Homo sapiens: one gene and its partners. Changing the gene in region 1 together with any one later gene gives a genetic interaction. Each region holds a gene or a part of one and is shown in the gene's direction. Other genes may lie near its edges. The genes, in order: LARS1, MRPL32 and KRAS.

Region 1 (3,658 bases):
TCATTTAGATTCATTCCCAACCCTTCTTTTACAATAAAGAGAAAACAAGTTGCCCAAAACTTTGAAAAGACCAGTTGCTTTATTTCTCACTCTATTGAGGGGACCGTTAATATTTGTAGAAAGAAATGAATTTAGATTCATTTAAAGCACACTTGGATTGTACTCATCAGTGATATATGATATGGACATTTATTTTTGAGTAGATAGAAATGATTCTGTTTTTAACAGGTCAGTAGCTAGGGATTCTTTTCACAATTGTGGTAACAGTTTCTTCCAAGTGTCCAAAAGCAGACATTATATAAACTTGTATGATAGTTGTGTAATTTTTTATTTTAATATGACTAATAAAATGCTTTTAGAAATTTGAAAACAAGTTTTTATGAGACCATTTAGTTTCTGAACAGGAGAAATATTCAACACAAATCACTTCTTTTTCTCTTCTAAACTAAAAAGTATGTGTTGTTAATTTATAGAGAATAGGAGAGTTCCTTCTGCATTGTTCATTGAGCTTTCACTTCCCCGTGATGCTAGGGCTGGACACTTTTCTGCTGTTCTCTAAGGATTGATAGAGGCCACCATTCTATGCCTGGTCACATCTACTGTTCTGCCTTATTCTTGAGACTTTTTTTTCTACATTACTCTCCCTCCTTCCTTTTCTTAGGCCAATAACGGAAAACTGCCTGACAACAAAGTCATTGCTAGTGAACTAGGCAGTATGCCAGAACTGAAGAAATACATGAAGAAAGTCATGCCATTTGTTGCCATGATTAAGGTAAGCTGTGGACCTTATGCAGCTGTGACCACATGAGCAATGGTTAGATGGGACAATAGAAGGATGGGGAAAAGCCTTGGACATAGTCTCCTGCCAGAAATCTGCTAAAATAGCACTTTTCAATCAATGACTGAGAGAAATGATCTATCAGATTTTGGGTTTACTTGTGGAATTGCTGAGTATGTGAAAAATATTATTGTGGGAGAAAAATTGGTTTAGAATGGCTGCACTGAACTATTCCCTTCATATTCTACCTTCCCTTCTTTCAAACTCTTTTGGCTTACATTAGGCTTATAGAGGCTTGCATTTCCTAGACCCTATTCCTGGAACCAGGATTCAACATTTGTATAGGTATAGCTTAACAGGGTAAACATTGGTTATAGTGGTTAGACCAGGGTGTCTCAGCATAGCTCTGTTGGTATTTTGGGCTAGATAGTTCTTGTGGGGCACTTTCTTGTGCACTGTAGGATATGTAATGGCATCCCTGGCTTCTACTCATTAGAAGCCAGTAGAACTACCTTTCCTGCTAGTTATGACAATGAAAAATATCTCCAGACATTGCCAAATGTCCGCTGGGGGCAGAATCACCTTCCACTTCTTACCATTGAGAATTATTGGGTTAGACCCTTAGTTTTCTTCATATACGTCGCTGATGTATTACTGGATTTCTTGACAAAAAGAAACCGAAAGAAGGCTTATATTGCTTAAGATCGCAGGCTATGGGGCCAGAAAAATCTTGGTTGAAATTCTGTGTATCAGTCACTCCTTAGTTTTGAGACCTTGGACAAATCACTTAAATTTTCTGGGCTACAGGATTTTTCATCCATAAAATGAGGATACTATAGAACCAAACTTTTTAGGAGTGCTGTGAGGAGTAAATAAAATAGTGTACCTAACACACTTAAGTAGCACTAGTCAAGAAGTAGGCTCAGTAAATGTTGTTTAAAAATACAAATTAGTATCTTCCAGCCTACTAAGCATATTGTAGTTATTCTTGTACTGTCCTTTAATTCTTGTGTCTTCTTGGCTGCAGATGCCTGATGGAGACCAGACCTCTTAACTTCTTCAATATTATAATAGATTAGTATTCTTGGAAAAGGTTTTTAATTCTCTTAGACCAAAGTCACTATTTGATCCTCAGGGTATTTTAAGTTTCAGAAGTAATTTAGAATCCTGTGTTGACCTACACTAATCAAGTTGTAATGTAAGTGCTGGTATGTTCATAGTTCGTTGGTTCCCCAGTGGCTAGTGTCATTGGTCATAATGCCAAATCTCTGTCAACATGTGGATCCAACAAAATATTCCATTGATGGTTGCAAAGGCAATTAATTTTGATGACATGTTTTAAAAGAATCCAGGGAAACCTATTTGAAAAGTAGTTATGTGTATATGTATATATATATAGAGTGTGTGTGTGCGTGTGTGTGTGTGTATAAAATGATATTAGATTCAAGAGTTGGCTTCTTTAGGATCTCATTTAAATTTGAAGAACCAGCATCAGACCGTTTGAGTGGTAATATATTTTTAAAATTATGTTGGTGATTTGCCAGGCAAATTAGTGGTTTTGCAAATTTTGGAAGGGATTAATACATCTGGGAATAAGAAAATGACTTTCTAGCACTTCCATGAGAAAAAGAAATAGAACTTGCATAGTAAGCGAAAACAGTGAGTAGCAGGAATAATATCAGGTCACTTTCATTAAGTATAACATGTTCTAGGTAGTTATATCTGCATATGTACTTGGATCTCTAGGATTCTATTTTGCACAGCAAATATTGACTACCCAAGAAAATTAAGAATAAGAAATTATTTTTTACATGCCATGTTTGAGTACTCATGTAGTATGAGTTTTTTTTCTTTAAACTTTGCAGAAATATCTTTGGGGATTTTTTGTTTGGATATTATTAATTCACTATTCTCTGAAACAGCTTTAAGAAGGTGGTATCTCAGAAAATTAAAATTTTGTTTTTTTTGGGTAACTTAAAGGGATATTTTCACACATTTGGCTGATTCCCTGTAAAGTGAATTCTTTGGGCTTGCATGTTAAGTCAGTCTAAATAAACAATCATAAAACCGTATTTATTTTATAAATCTGAAAACCTTGTGCCTTCCCATCTTTTCAGTGCTGCCATAATCTTATAATACTTTAAAAGATAATTATTTGGAGCTAGTAAATTTCATTAACAAGCAAATGTAGGTAAAGGAAATCATGAGTCCAAGGCCTTTCCTTTAACTCCTGAAATCTGAAGATTTTATCAGTTGAGAGAAGAATGATTACTTTGGAGGAAGTATGTTTTCCAACATATTCTTACTGTGATTTTGTTTTTCCATACCATTTTGGCTATTAGGAAAATCTGGAGAAGATGGGGCCTCGTATTCTGGATTTGCAATTAGAATTTGATGAAAAGGCTGTGCTTATGGAGAATATAGTCTATCTGACTAATTCGCTTGAGGTAAGAGGGCCAGGGATTGTAATAACCAGTTAACTGTAGTTAAACCATAATCCAGCTCTTTTATTTTATAATAAACCTTTTTATAAATTTCATCTTCTGTGTTTAGTATCTTTGTTAAATATATTAGTCGAAAATATTTTTGGAGAGAAGAAAAATGGGTGAGTATAAAAGTTGCAGGAAAAAAAGTGATATGTCATCTTATTTCATCAATTCTTAATTTACATATAATCAATTATACATTAAAAAACTGTATATCTGGCTATTCTACTGCAAATTATTTTTAAGAGACCTTATATTCAAATGCTTTCCAAGCCTCTCATGTTATGGAGTACTCTGAATTGTTGCCTTTTTTCCCCCCTCCCTTTTGATTTGCAGAATTGGATTAATTATAATCTTTGGTTTAGAATTGCTGCACTGATATATTGGTTCATGA
Region 2 (3,140 bases), on another chromosome or scaffold:
GAACGAGGCTGTGAGGTGCCTACATGACTTCTGAATTGTGAGCTGTGTCAGTCTTGAGCTGTGTGAGTTTTGAACTACAGATGAGTAAACATCCTAACTATGGCAGAGCCTAGAATTAAAGCTAGAAGCAGTAGGTATACTGAATCTTGGGTTTTACAAGCCCTTACATATTTGTTTTATTTTTTTATCATTTCCAACAAAATACCATGAAGGAAAACCCTAAGATAAGTAATATAATAGCTAACAACAATTAAGTGTCTATGATGTATCTCAGTGCCTTATGTTTATTATATCTCATCATGTCTTATAGCCCTCCAAAGCAAATAAGATATTCTTCATTATTAGGATGAAAAAACTGAGGCAAAAAGAATTTGCCTGTGGTCACACAGCTATGAAGCAGTAGATTTTCGAGCTCTGATTTTTGACCTCATGTTCTTTTAAAGATTTTCTTTGTGTTCTCCTATCCTCAGACAATTTCAGATTCTCCTCGCTGACAACATGGATGTACTGTCTTCATTGATCTAGTAAAGAAAAATTACAGTGTGTATTACCTCTGATCTGTTCATGTATGGTTTTAACAGTTAGGATTTCAGTTACTGTTTACTTCATGGCGTTCCACAACAGCAGCACCATACAGATGAAACTCGAGAACAGAAAGCTGACTTTCATAAGCATCCACATTCTGTTAAGCAAAACCTTAGAACTTAAGCCAGAAAGTATTATTGAGTGATGGTTGGGGCTGAACTTAAATGTAGAACTGAAAAACACTTTATTACTTAAGACTTACAGTAATTCATAAATTTGCTCAAGAGGACGTAAGATTTTAGGAATGAGATCTTGCACTGATCTATTATGTGACTTCCCTGATCGCATTTATTCTGAAGGAATAGTTCTTATCCTGTGCATTTATTTTCTTCCTTGAATTATTTTCTGTTACATACGGTATATAGTGTGTTATGTTGGGTACTTTGATCACGAAAGGAAGACCAGCTGACTGTGGGTGTCTTCATACCTTCAGTTGTGCATGCAATCCAGTTTCCAGTAGTGGAGCAAAATGAGAATATGGTTAGGCAAGTAATATACAAGCCTCTTTCTTCCTTTCAGAAAAGGAAATTCTTTTGTTATCTGCCTCACAAATGTTAGTATATTAATCTTATCAAGTGTTTAAAGCTTCTTTAATGATCCTGTTTAGTATTTTTCTTTGTATTTTCTTTCAAACCTACATCTAGAATAAGTTGATAAATCTTTTAGAGGTTATAATGTTTCTATTTTATATTTAAAGTTGGAGATATATATATATCTATATCTATCTCTATATATATATATATACACACACATATATATATCATTAAAATACCCTAAGAATGTAACATAGAAAATAATTTTACATTAAGGAATAATCAGTGTTCATTTTTAAAAAGAAAAATTATACCATATACGAAACCTGTATTCTGTACAGGAATTTGAATTACACTGTGATAAAAAGAGGAAGCCAAGGAAGTCAACTTGTAATGTTCTTATCTTGTTTTCCCTAAGATAGATTGAAAGACAAAGGGAATTCACTTTTCCTTGGTGTCTTATTTAAGATGCTGATTGTTTGGGTCACTTCATTATGTTGACAAATTCCTTATTTGATATTTAGTATTTGGAGTTAGGGGAAATGAGTATTTCTTTTTTCTTTTTTACATAACTACAACTGCTGTGTTTAAGTAAAGATACCAGATTCAGGTTGGCTGAATTCTAGTTCTAGTTTTTCTCTAATTCAAACTCAGTGTTGCTTGTCTTCAGTCTTCCTGTTAAAGTGAGGTGGAACTAGATGGTGTATGATGACCTCATGTAGCCTGAACATCCTAAGAAAGTTAAAATGTAAGCATTGCTCCTGTCAGTGGTTATTTGTTCGTTATATTGCCTCATGTTAAAATACGTTTTTGTTTATTGTTTTAAAGAACAACATAGACGTTTGTCCTGAATGTGGTCACCTGAAACAGAAACATGTCCTTTGTGCCTACTGCTATGAAAAGGTGTGCAAGGAGACTGCAGAAATCAGACGACAGATAGGGAAGCAAGAAGGGGGCCCTTTTAAGGCTCCCACCATAGAGACTGTGGTGCTGTACACGGGAGAGACACCGTCTGAACAAGATCAGGGCAAGAGGATCATTGAACGAGACAGAAAGCGACCATCCTGGTTCACCCAGAATTGACACCAAAGATGTTAAAAGGGTAACTTCACAGTAAATCATTTCTCCTGAAATAGAGGAAGATTCTTTATGTTGTTGTGCTTGTTTTTAAATCATCAGTATAGTTTAACACATTCTTTCTAAGCAGTTTTGTGTGGGATAATTTGAAGAATATATTATGAGTAAACTCCGAAAATTTTGTTTATCCAAAGGCTCAATGGATTATGTTTCTATTATATACAAGGTTTTAAGTAAACATAAAATTTCCAGAACAAAAATAAAAAATTTAAAATTCATAGCAAAAATTCTGTGTTTTGGCTTTGGTTTTGTTTGCCAGTGCCTTTTCTTAGACAAGAATACTTAACACAGATAACTCCATTTAAGTAACACATGGAAATAGGTTATTATTTGCATTTTTGGTATTGTTTTTTAAGATGGTAGGTGTGGCAGTAAGAATGGTTTTTGTTCTTATTTTTCTCTTAGCAAATTAAAATTGCTTTTGGAGGAAATTACTTTTATGAAACATACTAATTTACTTAGGTGATAGAAGTACTTCTTTACATTTTACATTAAATCAAAATCATATTCAGAATATATGAGATAGCCTATGTTTTGGAAGAGATTATTAGTAAAGATGTGAGCAGATTCCATAGCACACTGAAAATGTGATACGAATGTTCTTTGCATTTTTCTTTTAATATGTCCTTTTAGTTTATTTCACGTTTTATCAATTTTATCTCATTGTAACAATAGGCAATAGGCTCTTTAACTTAACTTTCTTTTTTTTTTTTTTTGAGATGGAGTTTCGCTCTTGTCGCCCAGGCTGGAGTGCAATAGCCTGATCTCAGCTTCACTGCAACCTCCGTCTCCTGGGTTCAAGAGATTCTCCTGTCTTAGTCTCCCAAGTAGCTGAGATTATAGGCGCCTGGCACCACGCCTAGCTAATATTTGTATTTTTAGTAG
Region 3 (3,658 bases), on another chromosome or scaffold:
TAAACTTGGTGTATATCATATATCACTTTACTTTAGAGGAATTAAGATTTCACATAAATCCATTTCCAGGTTCCAAAGACCAGGAAGAGGCTTGGTTTTTGTTTTTCTTTTTACTGTCTTTACAGTCTCCTTGACTTTTCTTAGGAGAGAAGGTACTGAGAAAACATGATTCTAATATTTATTATTTTTTCTTCCAACATTTTCTTATGAAACATTTTCAAATACAAAATTGAGTTTTATTTAAAACATTTGCAAATATACTACCTAGATTCTACCATTGTTGTTTTATATTTGCTTTACTTACAACTTTTAAAAGATGCTTTTTATACCACTGAACATTTTAGCTTACATTTCACAAAGAAAAGAAAAAATTTAAGAGACTTTGCATAATGTTTTAAGGGGTTGCAGTAAAGAAGTGCTTCTTATATTTTCTTATGCATACAAATCAGCTGGGCTTATTAAAATCCAGATTCTAATTCAGAAGGTTTAGGTGGGGACCGAGTCTGCATTTCTAACAAACTCCTAGGTGGTATTTTTCTTGGTACTTGGACCATACTTTGAGTAGAAAAGCAGTAGAGGACATAAAAAGAGTCTTGTTAGTCCCACTTTGTTGCTGTCCACTTCTCATTTGATAATATCCTAAAATAGCTGTGTCTCCTTTTTGGTGGTTGTATGATTACTACCTCAGAAGTACTAATTGATTCTTGCTATTTGACCTTAATACTTTAATATAACACAGCATTCATATTTGATCAGAAAACTATCTGGCTTCCTTTTATAAGAGATTTTTAGGTTTTATACAGTTTTGTGGCCTTGGGTTTTTTTGTTTGATTTGTTTTTTTGAAGGTATATAATATGTAAGTAGATAAACAAATTTGATTTGTAGACATTTTTATGTGGATCATCTAATTAAAAATGGAGGGATACAGTATGAAAGAATACTTGTACTTCTTAACAGAGCACTCAACCTTTCTTTTACATCCTGTTTCACTGATGTTATTATGTAATTTATGTTGCTAAACTATAAATTAGATATTTAATTTCTGTTCTTTGATTTCCTTTTATTATTAAATGGACTTGTTGATTTGCCTAGAAATTAATTTGCCTTTCAAAAGTCTTATTAATCTTCCTCCGTTGAAATTAATTTGATATTTGCATGCTTCTGGAAGACTTTAAAGAGCTATTCCGAGTAACTGTAGAGATTATAAAATGAAATATGGGAATTTTAATAAATTTTACATCTCCAGTTACTGGTGAAAATGTCAAGTCCTCCTTTCTGCAGAGTATTTTGTTACTCATCTGTTATTCAGCTTATTTATTTATTTATTTATTTATTTATTTTTCTTTCTTTCTTGTTTTTTTTTTTTGAGACGGAGTCTTGCTTTGTCGCCCAGGCTGGAGTACAGTGGTGGGATCTTGGCTCACTGCAGGCTCCGCCTCCCGGGTTCACACCATTCTTCTGCCTCAGCCTCCCAAGTAGCTGGGACTACAGGCACCCGCCACCATGCCTTGCTAAATTTTTGTATTTTTAGTAGAGACGGGTTTCACTGTGTTAGCCAGGATGGTCTCGATCTCTTGACCTCGTGATCCACCTGCCTCGGCCTCCCAAAGTGCTGGGATTACAGGCATGAGCCACCGCGCCTGGCCCTTATTTGTTTTTTAAACAAAATTAGTGTGCATATCCTTGTTGTATTTTATCGGCAAGTTGTTTTATGCCCTAACTTTTGGGGTCTTGATCATGAGCCTAAAACACGTAAACACCCAAAAAGAATTATATTCCGGTTAAAGGAACAAAACATTCATTTAGAAGTTCTCATCCATGTAAATCAGAGGCTGGCAAATATTTTCTGTAAAGGGCCAAGATAGTAAATGTTTTAGGCTTTGAGGGCCACAAGTGGTATCTGTTGCATTTTTTTTTAATTATGACCCTTTAAAATGCAAAAATCGTTGTTAGCTTGTGCATAGTATAAAAATAGGCTGGCCGCATGCTGTGGCTCATGCCTGTAATCCCAGAAATGAGGTGGGAAGCCGAGGTGGGCACACCACCTGAGGTCAGGAGTTCGAGGCCAGCCTGGCCAACGTGGTTGAAACCCCGTCTCTACTAAAAATACAAAACTTAGCCAGGCGTGGTGGCGGGTGCCTGTTATCCTGGCTACTCAAGGGGCTGAGGCAGTAGAATTGCTTGAACCTGAGAGGCAGAGGCTGTAGTGAGCCCAGATCAAGCCAGTGCACACCAGCCTGGACGACCGAGCGAGACTCTGTCTCAAAAAAAAAAAAAAAAGGCTGTGGCTGCATTTGGTCCATTGGCTGTAATATGCTGATTCCTAATTCTCTGGGTAACTTTAGTGTTTGATTAGCTACTAGAAGTTAGGTTAAACTTTTGTATTTTACAGGCTAACTTTAATAATCTTAAAGTAAAACTTAACATAGTTCATGGAAAGGAAATAGAAATTTTACCCTAGTACTCTTTTTTTTTTTTTTTTTTTTTTTTGAGGCAGAGTCTCCCTCTGTCACCCAGGCTGGAGTGCAGTGGTGGGATCTTGGCTGATTGCAACCTCCTCCTCCTGGGTTCAAGCAATTCTTGTGCCTCAGCCTCCCGAGCAGCTGGGACTACAGGCACGCACCACCACACCTGACTGATTTTTGTATTTTTAGTAGAGACAGGGTTTCGCCATGTTGGCCAGGCTGGTCTTGAACTCCTGGCATCAAGTGATCCTCCCATCTGAGCCTCCCAGTGTGCTGGGATTACAGACGTGAGTCACTGTGCCTGGTCTCTAGTATTTTTTTTTTTTTTGAGACGGTCTCACTGTTGCCAGGCTGGAGTGCAGTGGCGCGATCCTGGCTCACTGCAACCTCCGCTTCCCGGATTCAAGCGATTTTCCTGCCTCAGCCTCCTGAGTAGCTGGGACTATGGGTGCACACCACCACGCCCAGCTAATTTTTGTATTTTTAGTAGAGACGGGGTTTCACCATGTTGGCCAATATGGTCTCAATCTCTTGACCTCGTGATCTGCCCGTCTCGGCCTCCCAAAGTGCTGGGATTACAGGCGTGAGCCACTGTGCCCAGCTGTACTTTTTAAGATAAGAATTGCAGGGTATATATTTTTACCAACTTAATAACTTATAATTTTAAAAAGCTAATTACTTGGCTAGAATATAATGCGTTACATATTCTTTACACTCAGTTCAGTCCATATCTGAAAGGCAAATAGAATTATTTTCTGCTAGTACATTGTGTAGTCCCTATGTTCCTAGTGTATAAGGACTGTTACCTAGTTCACATTTATCTGGGTTGTTGACAGATTTTCCTGGTCCCTTTGGACAGTGCATGGCCATGTTGGCAAAAGCTGTCAAAATTGAAACATTGACACCATGAGAATTGTGTGTTTTCCAGTCTGCTAAAATCAAAAGTGGGAGGGTTCAGTAAGGTGAATAACAGAAGCAGAGTTTTCGGGGTATCTGTTACTCCTCATTCGGCTTTTCTGCTCTCTGGGGGTCTCAATTTAAATATAATGTGAAAATTAGTTTTACGAACCTAAAAATGTTGAGTGATTCATTTCCTGGTTTTGTTGTTAATTTCTAGATATTTAAATTAATTGTTAGAAGAACCCCGTTAAAGAATGCTTTGCAAAACAACCTCCTTATGTGCTATGTCTCT

Evidence for each region.
Region 2: changes in LARS1 (region 1) and MRPL32 together harm fitness less than expected from each alone (positive genetic interaction), as found in Homo sapiens cells (one large-scale study listed by BioGRID).
Region 3: changes in LARS1 (region 1) and KRAS are lethal when combined (synthetic lethality), as found in Homo sapiens cells (2 studies listed by BioGRID, with this or other methods).

Annotation. Positions count from the first base shown.
Region 1 is NC_000005.10:146,123,549-146,127,206, reverse strand, and holds part of LARS1 (leucine--tRNA ligase, cytoplasmic), read left to right. Parts: intron 1-661; coding exon 662-772; intron 773-3,120; coding exon 3,121-3,225; intron 3,226-3,658. UniProt on the Homo sapiens protein: Aminoacyl-tRNA synthetase that catalyzes the specific attachment of leucine to its cognate tRNA (tRNA(Leu)).
Region 2 is NC_000007.14:42,935,376-42,938,515, forward strand, and holds the end of MRPL32 (large ribosomal subunit protein bL32m precursor), read left to right. Parts: intron 1-1,788; exon of another isoform or gene 1,789-1,866; intron 1,867-1,946; coding exon 1,947-2,201; 3' UTR 2,202-2,482; downstream 2,483-3,140. UniProt on the Homo sapiens protein: Component of the mitochondrial large ribosomal subunit (mt-LSU). The mitochondrial ribosome (mitoribosome) is a large ribonucleoprotein complex responsible for the synthesis of proteins inside mitochondria.
Region 3 is NC_000012.12:25,219,858-25,223,515, reverse strand, and holds part of KRAS (GTPase KRas), read left to right. Parts: intron 1-3,641; exon of another isoform or gene 3,642-3,658. UniProt on the Homo sapiens protein: Ras proteins bind GDP/GTP and possess intrinsic GTPase activity. Plays an important role in the regulation of cell proliferation.